3 linked regions of the Homo sapiens genome follow. The protein of the gene in region 1 purifies or fractionates together with the protein of each later gene. This does not show direct contact. Each region holds a gene or a part of one and is shown on either strand. Other genes may lie near its edges.

What was found.
Region 2: the proteins of THG1L (region 1) and EEF2K fractionate together in Homo sapiens (co-fractionation; one large-scale study listed by BioGRID). This does not show direct contact.
Region 3: the proteins of THG1L (region 1) and MTR fractionate together in Homo sapiens (co-fractionation; one large-scale study listed by BioGRID). This does not show direct contact.

Annotation. Positions count from the first base shown.
Region 1 is NC_000005.10:157,734,266-157,737,919, forward strand, and holds part of THG1L (probable tRNA(His) guanylyltransferase), read left to right. Parts: intron 1-310; coding exon 311-480; intron 481-1,580; coding exon 1,581-1,669; intron 1,670-3,621; coding exon 3,622-3,654. UniProt on the Homo sapiens protein: Adds a GMP to the 5'-end of tRNA(His) after transcription and RNase P cleavage. This step is essential for proper recognition of the tRNA and for the fidelity of protein synthesis.
Region 2 is NC_000016.10:22,258,211-22,261,864, forward strand, and holds part of EEF2K (eukaryotic elongation factor 2 kinase), read left to right. Parts: intron 1-283; coding exon 284-485; intron 486-2,251; coding exon 2,252-2,319; intron 2,320-3,654. UniProt on the Homo sapiens protein: Threonine kinase that regulates protein synthesis by controlling the rate of peptide chain elongation.
Region 3 is NC_000001.11:236,850,691-236,854,344, reverse strand, and holds part of MTR (methionine synthase), read right to left. Parts: intron 1,825-3,654; coding exon 1,708-1,824; intron 1,398-1,707; coding exon 1,257-1,397; intron 1-1,256. UniProt on the Homo sapiens protein: Catalyzes the transfer of a methyl group from methylcob(III)alamin (MeCbl) to homocysteine, yielding enzyme-bound cob(I)alamin and methionine in the cytosol. MeCbl is an active form of cobalamin (vitamin B12) used as a cofactor for methionine biosynthesis.

The sequences.
Region 1 (3,654 bases):
TAATCCCAGCTACTCGGGAGTCTGAGGCAGGAGAATCACTTGAACCCAGGAGGCAGAAGTTGCAGTGAGCCAAGATGGTGCCATTGCACTCCAGCCCAGGCAACAGAGCAAGACTCTGTCCTAAAAAAAGAAAAAAAAATACAGAACCAAGGTATTAAAATAGTGTTTCTTAGCCAAATGCATTTTATCTCCTGGCTTTCTGGGCAGTTTGTGTACTCTCTGTGGTACCCACAGGTCTTATCATGGTGTTGAACTAATTCCGTGTATTTTTCTTTTTCTTACTCCACCCAATGTGCGTTACATTTTCAAGTAAGTTCATGACTCACGTGGCCTCCCAGTTTGCCTCCAGCTATGTGTTTTATTGGCGGGATTACTTTGAGGACCAGCCCCTTCTGTATCCCCCAGGCTTTGACGGAAGAGTCGTGGTGTATCCCAGCAACCAGACTTTAAAGGACTACCTCAGCTGGCGACAAGCAGATTGTGAGTGGCACCAAATAAACACATGTAGTTAAACCACCAATTCCATGTCTTACAGGTGTTGATCTGATACAGGATTGGCTCACATATACTTTGTTTCAACATATACGTTGTACAGAATGCAGTATTTAAATATTTTTTCAATTAGTTAAAAGTATTTGAAAAATTAAATTTTACGTAAAAACTCCTTATCTCTATTTTTTTTTTTTTTTAAGACAGAGTTTCGCTCTTGTTGCCCAGGCTGGAATGCAGTGGTGTCATCTTGGCTCACTGCAACCTCCACCTCCTGGGTTCATGGGATTCTTCTGCCTCAGCCTCCCGAGTAGCTGGGATTACAGGCATGTGCCACCACGCCCGGCTGATTCTGTATTTTTTAGTAGAAATGGGGTTTCTCCATGTTGGTCAGGCTGGTCTTGAACTCCTGACCTCAGGTGATCCACCCGCCTTGGCCTCCCAAAGTGCTGGGATTATAGGCGTGAGCCACCACGCCCAGCCGCCTTATCTCTATTTTTTAAAAAAATCAGATGTGGCAATACTGGATCTGCATTCTTACTTAGTACTAGACAAAGCCTGTTCAGTGGCAGCTACCTTTACACACACACACACACACAAATGCCAGTGTGCCATAGTCTCTGCCATTCCCTGTTGTTCCTCTGGGGTCACCCACTGCTTTACACATTTATGTTCATGCTGGCCTCAGTGGGTATTTGAATTGTGACCCTTGCCTTATGTGACTGTGATGATGTTTGTGAGGCTTTTACTTGCTTGTTCTAGTTTGAATTTTCCAGAAGAACTGGAAAAGAGATTGAAATAATATAAATCAAATAACTTCTAAAGTATTCCTAGGATTAACACACAAGTTAACAGATTTGTATAATGTGTAACTGAAATGACCAAATAAAACTGTTGTTAGGGATGAAGTTTTTTCCCTACTGCTCCTTCCCTCCATGTTCCGTGTGTAGGACTTCGGTCAAGTCACTGAATGTCTCTGAGATCTCTTTACTATGAAAGAGGAGAGGGTCAGGGCTCTAGTATTCCTTGAAGAATGAATATTCAATAAAGATTTTATGTATATAAACATTACTATTTTGTTCTCCTCACAGGTCACATCAATAATCTTTATAATACAGTTTTCTGGGCACTTATACAACAATCTGGACTAACACCAGTACAAGCCCAAGGGAGATTACAGGTATAAAGATCTTACTACATTAATACTTAACTGGGGACAGTTCGCTGTAGGCTCTCCCATAACTTTTTTTTTGTTAAATTTACATTTCTTTCTTTTAAGATCCCTGTACAGCTTTGTTTTGAAAGGATATAAAAATCATAATAGGAGCAGCTCTGCTGCCTGCTTGGTCTGTAATCCTGGATGAATTACTGCTTCTCCCTGAGCCTTTGTGTTCTTAGTGGAAAATGGAATTGACGGCACTGGCTCTGCATTCCCACGTGCTAACACTTGCCTGAAGCCGTGTATGACTGTGTATGACTGCCGTCTTCAGCACTGACTTTTTTTTTTTTTTTTGAGACACAGTTTCACTCTGTTGCCCAGGCTGCAGTACAGTGGTGTGATCTCAGCTGATTGCAACCTCCACCTCCTGTGCTCAAGCGATTCTCGTGCCTCAGCCTCCCAAGTAGCTGGGATTACAGGTGCATGCCACCACACCCAGCTAATTTTTGTATTTTTAGTAGAGACAGGGTTTCACCCCGTTGGCCAGGCTGGTCTTGAACTCCTGACCTGAAGTGATCTGCCTGCCTGGGCCTCCCAGAGTGCTGGGATTACAGGCGTGAGCCAGTGAGCCACCACACCTGGCCAGCACTGAATTTTTGTCAGTCCCACCACGCCTCTTCCCTCATTGCCATTTTCCCTGCTGGGCACCTGTAGTTTCTTGGGTTTATGACCTCTGTGTATAGGAAGAGTTCGTGCTGAGTTTGTTACTTTCATAAATGTCATAATAACTACTCACATCATGCTTCTGTGTAATTTTATCCTTTCTGCCTCAGTTCTTTATAGGTAAAATGTAGAAAATAGTAGTTTCTACCTCATAGGTTTATGGTGAGAATTAAATGGCATGATGCACGTAAAACACAGAATCGTATGAAGCACATTGTAAGTGCTTAATAAATACTGGTTTTTGTTATAACAGTGCTACTTGTAGGATGACTAACTGTGAAGTGAGGTAATGTGTTGTAACAGATCTTTTATTTGTATTTTATTTTATCTATTTATTTATTTTTTGAGATGGGTTCTTGCTATTTTCCCCAGGCTGGTCTTGAACTCCTGGGCTCCAGCAGTCCGCCCACCTCAGCCTCCCAAGTAGCTGGGATTACAGGTGCATGCCACTGTGCCCAGCTGTAACAGTTACTAATACAATGCCTGGTACATTATGTTTGCTCAATAAATGGTTGTCATTTTTAATAATAGTAATGATAGAGATTTTTATATAGCAATAATAGGAAAACTGGGGCCTGGTGTGGTGGTTCACGCATGTAATCCCAGCACTCTGAGGAGGCCAAGGTAGGTGGATCACCTGACGTCAGGAGTTCAAGACCAGCCTGGCCAACATGGTGAGACCGCTTCTCTACAAAAATTAGCTGGGTGTGCTGGCACACACCTGTAATCCCAGCGACTCAGGAGGCTGAGGCATGAGAATCGCTTGAACCTGGGAGGTGGCAGTTGCAGTGAGCTGAGATTGCACCACTGCACTCCAACCTGGGCAACAGAGTGAGACTTTGTCTAAAAAAAAAAAAGGCATACTGGTAGGTATATCCAGGTTTGGAAGAGTCAAGTTCAGATTTCAATTCTTCGTAGAAGAATAAGGACAACCTTTTAACCTTGGGGAATTTATATAACCTTTCTAAGTTTTACTGGACCAAATACATAATATGTATTCAGTTAGTATTAATTCTCCCCACTCCCTTTCAGTCTTGACTTGTGAAGCCAGTGTTTGGTATAGGAGAGAATTTTATCTAAGTAAGATCATAATTGCCCTTAAGATGAAAATTTACTAATAACTATAAGATGTTTGATAAAATCCTTCCACTTCTTGATTGTGGAAATTTAGGTTGTGGGTCGAATGGATAGTAGCACTAGGGGAGAAAGAAGACATGCAGAGCTTTTAATATCTATTTTTATTTTCTCAGGGAACTCTTGCAGCAGACAAGAATGAGATTTTG
Region 2 (3,654 bases), on another chromosome or scaffold:
TAGAGTGGAATGCTTTCTCCAGCTCTGGGCTGTGGAATGTGGTCAGTGCTTTAGGGGATACTGGCAGGTCCTCTGAGCCTCTGTTCCAGATGCCCTTTCTTGGAGGCCTTAGGTTTAATCCCTGACTGATTTTTTATTTTTTAAGACAATATATCAGCTCCTAAACAGGCATGTTTAGGAGCTGTGGATGAAGGGGTTTCAGGGTTAGAGGGAACAACAGGAAGAGCCCTTTAATTCCCAGAGGGTGTGTGCGTGACATGAGTATCCCTATTAATGTCCCTAGCAATCAGCCAAGACCATCTTGAGAGGAACAGAGGAAAAATGTGGGAGCCCCCAAGTAAGGACCCTCTCTGGGAGCCGGCCACCCCTGCTCCGTCCCCTTTCAGAGAACTCTGGAGACGAGAACATGAGCGACGTGACCTTCGACTCTCTCCCTTCTTCCCCATCTTCGGCCACACCACACAGCCAGAAGCTAGACCACCTCCGTGAGTGACGGTTCGGTCCCTAGTCACTGTGATTGGAGGGGACAGGTGGAGCAGAGCTAAACCAGCTTTCATTTATGTTAGAAAAATCAGACATGCTAATCGAAAAGGTTCATGGCCCCAGTGGTTTTATAGGTGAGTTTCATTGAGTGAACTTTCAAAACAGATCATCCAAATGCTATAAAAACAACCCCTATTGTAGGAAACAAAGTAACTTTTATCAGTGTGTTTTATGAAACCAGCAAAACCTATATAATAAATTTGACAAACTAAAAAAGAAAATTATATCCCAACCTTATTTAAAATTTGTATTTGTGTATAGAGAACAAAAAAAAAATCTAAATAGATATTAACAAATAAAAATAGTACTATGTTAAAAGGTTCACCTGTCACAGTTAAATAGGGATTTCACAGGAATCTGAGGGTTGTTCAATGTTAGAAAAGCTATGAATGTGATATTAATGGGTCAAAGGAGAAAAACAGAATCATTATTTCTGACACTGAAAGAGTGGAGTTTGCTGATGATTCAGATGAGAGTCTGTAGGAAAGGATAGAGGCAAGACTGACCCCAGGGTATTGGCCTAAAGAGCTGGAGGTCATGTATTCAGGGAAAGTGTGAGCGGGAGCAGGCTCAGAGCAGGAGAGCAAGATTTTATTGTTTAGTTTTTTAATTTTTCTCATTTTGATACCTTTGAAAGAGAGAAAGATTTTAGTGTCAAACATTAAAGAAGCCCTTTAGATGTTTCCACTGGAAGGTCTTTGGAATAGTCTGGAACAGGAGTCAACAGACTTTTTTAAAAGGTCAGAGAGTAAATATTTTAAGCTTTGCAGGTCATTCAGTCTCTGCATTTGGAGCATGAAAGCTACCATAGAAAATATTAAGTGAGTGGATGTGGCTGTGTTCCAATAAAACTCTATGGATGGTGAAATTTAATTTTTGTCATCCATTTAAAAATGTAAACACTGTTCTTACAAACTATAAAAACAGACAGATAGATTTGGCTGTAGAGGGCAGGAGACAGAGATAGGGAACCACCAGGAGATGGTTGGTGTTTTTTTTTTGTTTGTTTTGTTTTGAGACGGAATCTCTCTCTCTGTCACCCCGGCTGGAATGCGGTGGCGTGATCTTGGCTCATTGCAATCTCTACCTCCTGGGTTCAAGCGATTCTCCTGCCTCAGCCTCCCAAGTAGCTGGGATTACAGGTGCATGCCACCATACCCAGCTAATTTTTGTATTTTTAATAGAGATGGGGTTTCACTATGTTGGCCAGATTGGTCTTGAACTCCTGACCTCAGGTGATCCACCTGCCTCGGCCTCCCATAGTTCTGGGATTACAGGCATAAGACACCGTGCCCAGCTGAAGATGGTTTTGAAGCTATCTGAGGCCCACTTCTTGAGCCCCAAATGTATAAACGTCTGTTCTTCCTTCACAACTGCATTTTATTGAGGACCAAGTGGTGGCCAGGCACATATGCTAATAAACACATTACAAGGATAATTGCATTGTGACAACCCTGAGGACACACATAGGTGACACCACTTGGCCAGAATCATGTAGCTGGCAAACAGCAGACTTAGAATAAGTTCTCAAGGAAGAACTTTAGCCTCCAGGTGCTGATAACATTCTTCTCCTTTTTTGTGCCTTTCTTTAAAGCTTAAAAAAAAAAAAAGGCTTGGTGGCAGGTATGGACCGCCCTAGGCCGTGGGTTGGTCTTATGCATGTTCCAGTAGTGGAACCAGGACATGATGTCTGTTTCTCCCTGCCCAGATTGGCCAGTGTTCAGTGACCTCGATAACATGGCATCCAGAGACCATGATCATCTAGACAACCACCGGGTGAGTGTGAAGGGAGGGAGGCTGCAGGCTTCAGACCCCAGCAGGGGTAGGAGTGGATTCACTCCCAGAGTGAATCTTCAGCTTCGGAGGTGGGCAGCCTAGCCCAGGCACTGCCAGGAGGGCACAGAATGGGGGAATTAGGGAGGATGCAGATGAATGTCAGCCTCCAGTCCAAGGCTGAGCTTTCCTCTGAGAAAAGGTGGGTCCCTTGCAGTTCCCAGAGATGGTTAGGGAAGAGGGACTCCCAGTCAGCAACAATGCGATCTTGTAGTAAATGCCAGTCTCAGCTCCAGGTTTGGTTTGACCCCACATGTGTTGGTTGTCCTATAGAGCCCTAATACTGGGTCTTAGATGTGTAACACATAGCACAGTAAGCCATGTGTTCTAGCTCTTCACACCTAGCTCTCCAGTTAGATAAACAGAACATTTCCTGAAGCTTTGGGTTGACTTGGTGGTAAGAAACTGAAGGCATCTTATCTGCATTCTCACAAATGTATATTATGGCAAATTATAATACTCTCTATGCTTGTGTGTGTGTTTGAAATATTTCTTAGTAAAATTGGCCAGGCATGGTAGCTCATGCCTATAATCCCAGCACTTTGGGAGACCAAGGTGGGCAGATCACTTGAGCCCAAGAATTTGAAACTAGCCTGGGCAATATGACAAGACCCCCATCTCTACAAAAAAATACAAAAGTTAGCCAGGCATGGTGGCACATACCTGTAGTCCCAGCTACTCAGGAGGCTGAGGTAGGAGGATCTCTTGAGCCTGGGAGGCAGAGGCTGCAGTAAGCCATCATCACACCACTGCACTCCAGCCTGGGTGACAGCGAGATCTTGTCTCAAAAAAAAAGAAAAAACAAATACCTTTTAGTAGAGGCTGGGCGCAGTGGCTCACGCCTGTAATCCCAGCACTTTGGCAGGCCAAGGGGGGCAGATCACTTGAGGTCAGGAATTTGAAGACCAGCCTGACCAACATGCCAAAACCCCATGTCTACTAAAAATACAAAAATTAGCCGAGTATGGTGGCAGTTTCCTGTAATCCCAGCTACTCAGGAGGCTGAGGCACGAGAATTTCTTGAACCCAGGAGGCGGAGGTTGCAGTGAGCAGAGGTCGCACCACTGCACTCCAACCTGGGCGACAGAGCGAGACTCAGTCTCAAAAAAAAAAAAAAAGAAATACTTCTTAGTAGAGGCGGGGTGTGGTGGCTCACACCTGTAATCCCAGCACTATGGGAGGCTGAGGCAGGCAGACCACTTGAGGCCAGGAGTTTAAGACCAGTCTGGCCAACATGATGAAACCTCATCCCTACAAAAAATATAAAAATTAGCCAGG
Region 3 (3,654 bases), on another chromosome or scaffold:
CCTGGGTCCACATGAGAAACTGGAAATGTTTTTAAGGAACTGAGAGGAGGGTCGTGTGAGCGTTGGCACAGTGTCTGAACTCCTTTCAGCTTTGTTGAGCCTAAGGCTTCCATAAGCAATTTCAGAAATCTAAGTCTTACTACCAGTAAGGCTGATAAAACAAGGATGTGGTTAATCTCATAGTGTCCTATCCTTCTTCCAGAGCATTTTATTACTCTTCTGTGGAAGAGGCAAAGTTGGCAGTTCTATCAGAGCTAAATTCAGATTCTAACATGGAAAACATTAACAAAGTTGGCAAGAGACACAAAAGCATCCTACCACTTTCTCAACATGCTTTGTGGGAAAAATATCTTCCTTTGCCATCATTCTCTTAAACAGATTAAAATGCAAGTTCTTTTGAGGTAAAGATCTCAACTTTCCTTAAACTGAATTCTAAGAAGAACCATCTACGATAGATACTTCATGTGCCTAGGACTGCGCCCAACATATAAATGAGAAACAAGCTGGTGTTTGAATTAGCTATAATTATACTCATTTTTTACACATCAAATGTGCACAGACCTAAGCCTTGAACTGCAGAACTTTGCCACAGATGGACCAGATCCTAACATAAACAGGTATACAAACCAAAACATGGAACAGTGGGGACCATGTAACACTAACATAGCCACACAAGAAAATCCAGAACAGCTATTTTAAATAATGAGGTAGAAAAATATCAAGTAAAATGGAAATATGTTCCCAGTACACTGCTAAGAAAAAAATATTACCATAAAAGCATCTAGAGTATAGTTCTATTTTTGTAAAAAATGTATGTATATGTACCTATGCATGCATATTCATTTTGCAAAAAGAAATAAAAACTCCCATCACTTAAAGGTTATAACAAAATCTCAAGTGTTTAACTTTGGGTGGTAGGATTACAAGTGATTTTTATTTTCTTCCTTTGCTTACCAGAATTTTGTAAATTTTCTAGAACTAATATGTTACTTGGTACAAGAAAAATTAATTTTACATTTTACAATAAATTTAAAGAAACCTAAGTTCAGAATACGGAAGCACCCTAGGCATGGTCTGTTTACCCTTCCTTGCCCTAGCTACACCACCATCTCTGCAACTCTCTGTAGAAATCTTCAGTGATCCAAATATATGATTCGATATTTGCTTCTATTCCACCATGAAGGTCTACTAACTGTAGGTGAGTAATACATTCAAAGATAGGAAAAATCCATCTATTAGAACACTTGTCTCTCTACCTGGGCATAACGTAAGAGCTTCTCAGTGGCCTCAGGGTCTTTATTCCAGATGAGATCTTCACAGAGCTGCAGAAGTTCCTTATGGATATCATCATACACAGGGAGGTTTCCAGCATTCACTATCCCCATGTCCATGCCAGACTAAGGGCAATACAAATAAAAATGAGAATTTACAGTGATACCTTAAGTCAGCGATCAGCAAACTTTTCTCTGTAAAGGGCCAGAGAGAAATATTTTAGGCCATAGCCTCTGTCACAGCTACTCAACTTTGTAGTTACAGCATAAAAGCAGCCACAGACAAGATACAAATGAATAGGTGTGGCTCTATCCCAATAAAATCTTATTTACAGAAACTGGCAGCAGGCCGGACTTAGCCTGCATGCCACACTTTGAAAACCCCTGCCCCAACTAAAAACTGGTTTCCGCAGGGCTAAGAGTTCTTCTACCATACCTTGATTGCATGGTAAAGGAAAACCCCATGCATTGCTTCTCGAATGGCTTCCATTCCTCGGAAGGAGAAGGACAAGTTGGAAAGACCTCCACTTATTCTGGCTCCAGGTAATGTTTCCTGGCAAAAATTTTAAAATATGAAAAGATTCCCCTTTTTTGCCAAAAACAGCAATCACATCTCTTAAGCTTTATATAGGAGTGGAAAGAAAAAAAAACAAAAAGCATCCGAAGTTCAAAGTAATTCAGAGCTTCTTGTTACTAGACATAGACCAAAGCTTGCCGTATTACAGTATTACAAAGGCGCTGCTTCGTAAGTAGTTTTTCCTACTAGACTCCAATCTCCCTAAGGAGAACACGCGCGTACACACACACACACACACACGCAGAAAGACAAAGAGGAATTCCTTATTCACTGAAAGTACAAATTACTAGAAGGCTTCCATAGCCTAAATGAACAGACTCCCTAGTTCACTATGAACTTGACCGACTATAAAAGGACAAAAGGAAATTGAAGTTCCAACCATACCGATGACAGTATCAAGCATCATCAGGCTTGTGGAATAACAGGAACTTTCACTATTATTGGCTCAAGAATCTAGGGAGACAGTTTGTCATTATCTACTACTATGAGCCAACCACTTCTGGGTCTATGCTACAGAGAAGTTCAGGCATGCATGTCTAAGATACATATATAAGAATACTCAGAGCTGCATTGTTCATAATGTCCAAAAGCTGGAAAAAAACTAGATGTCCATCAACAATAGAACAGTTAATTGTGGTATAGTTATACCATAGAATATTATACATTAATAAAAATGAACAAACAGCTACAGCCACACAGATAAATCTTTAGTATGGAGTAAGAAAAAAACATAAAAATATTACGATTCTATTTTTATTAGGCTCAAAAGCAGGCAAAACCAAACTATATCATTCAGATATTCAGTCAATTCTTACTATTTTGTGGTAGTTATGTTCTTTAAAGTCACTGCAAACACTGAATTAGGGAATACCAGAGCATTGCTCCTAGGAGAAATACAGGGCTAGGTTCCTATGAGCCTCTGATGACATTTTTGTCAACCAATCAATACATAACCTTGTTTTGTGCATGTATGTTAAGATGCTGTATCTAATATTTACTGTTGATTCATTAAGACTGAATTCACAGCCAATGGCACTATAATTCATGTCTGAACAAAGCTTATCTAACACACATATTTCCTCCCTAAGGAACATCACAGCCTTCTTGTGCTTAGAACACTAGACAGCACTAGTATGGGGCCATTTTAAAAAGTGACCTCACCAACAAAACGCATAAAAGTGTGAAAAACATGGCATTAGACTGCAAAAAGGACATCTGTGTACAGGATGAGAGCTGAAATAAGAAGGTAGGTCACTGCCATGTTTGCCCTCTTTGGGAATAATATGGGTTGGGCCACTCAAATTTTCCACCACTCTGCATATGGGTAAGTCTGAACAACTGCAGAAGTGACGTTGAGTATTGATTTTGGGGTCACAAATAAATTTCAGTAAGTACATGAATTTGCAAATATAAAATCCATAGATGATGCAAATCAAATCTACATATATAAGCAATAAATTTATGAAGAAAAGCAACAGAGTAGCGTCATAAAACTCAGGACAATAGCTACTTTATAAAATTGAGAATGAGGTGTAACTGGAAAAGGAGAGACAGACGGGGGCGCTAGCTATGCTCTATTTTGGGACCTAAGTGAAGGCTCTTATATGCTTCATAATTAATTATTTATCAGGTTCTGTGGTTTTTTTGTTTTGCATCATTTTGTTCAAGGCAGGGCCTCACTCTGTCGCCCAGGCTAGAGCGCACTGGCGTGATCCCAGCTCAATGCAACCTCCACCCTCCTGGGTTCAAGCGAGTTCATCAGGCTCTGTTATGTTCTCCAGTCTGTTTGTTACACAAGTTAAAACT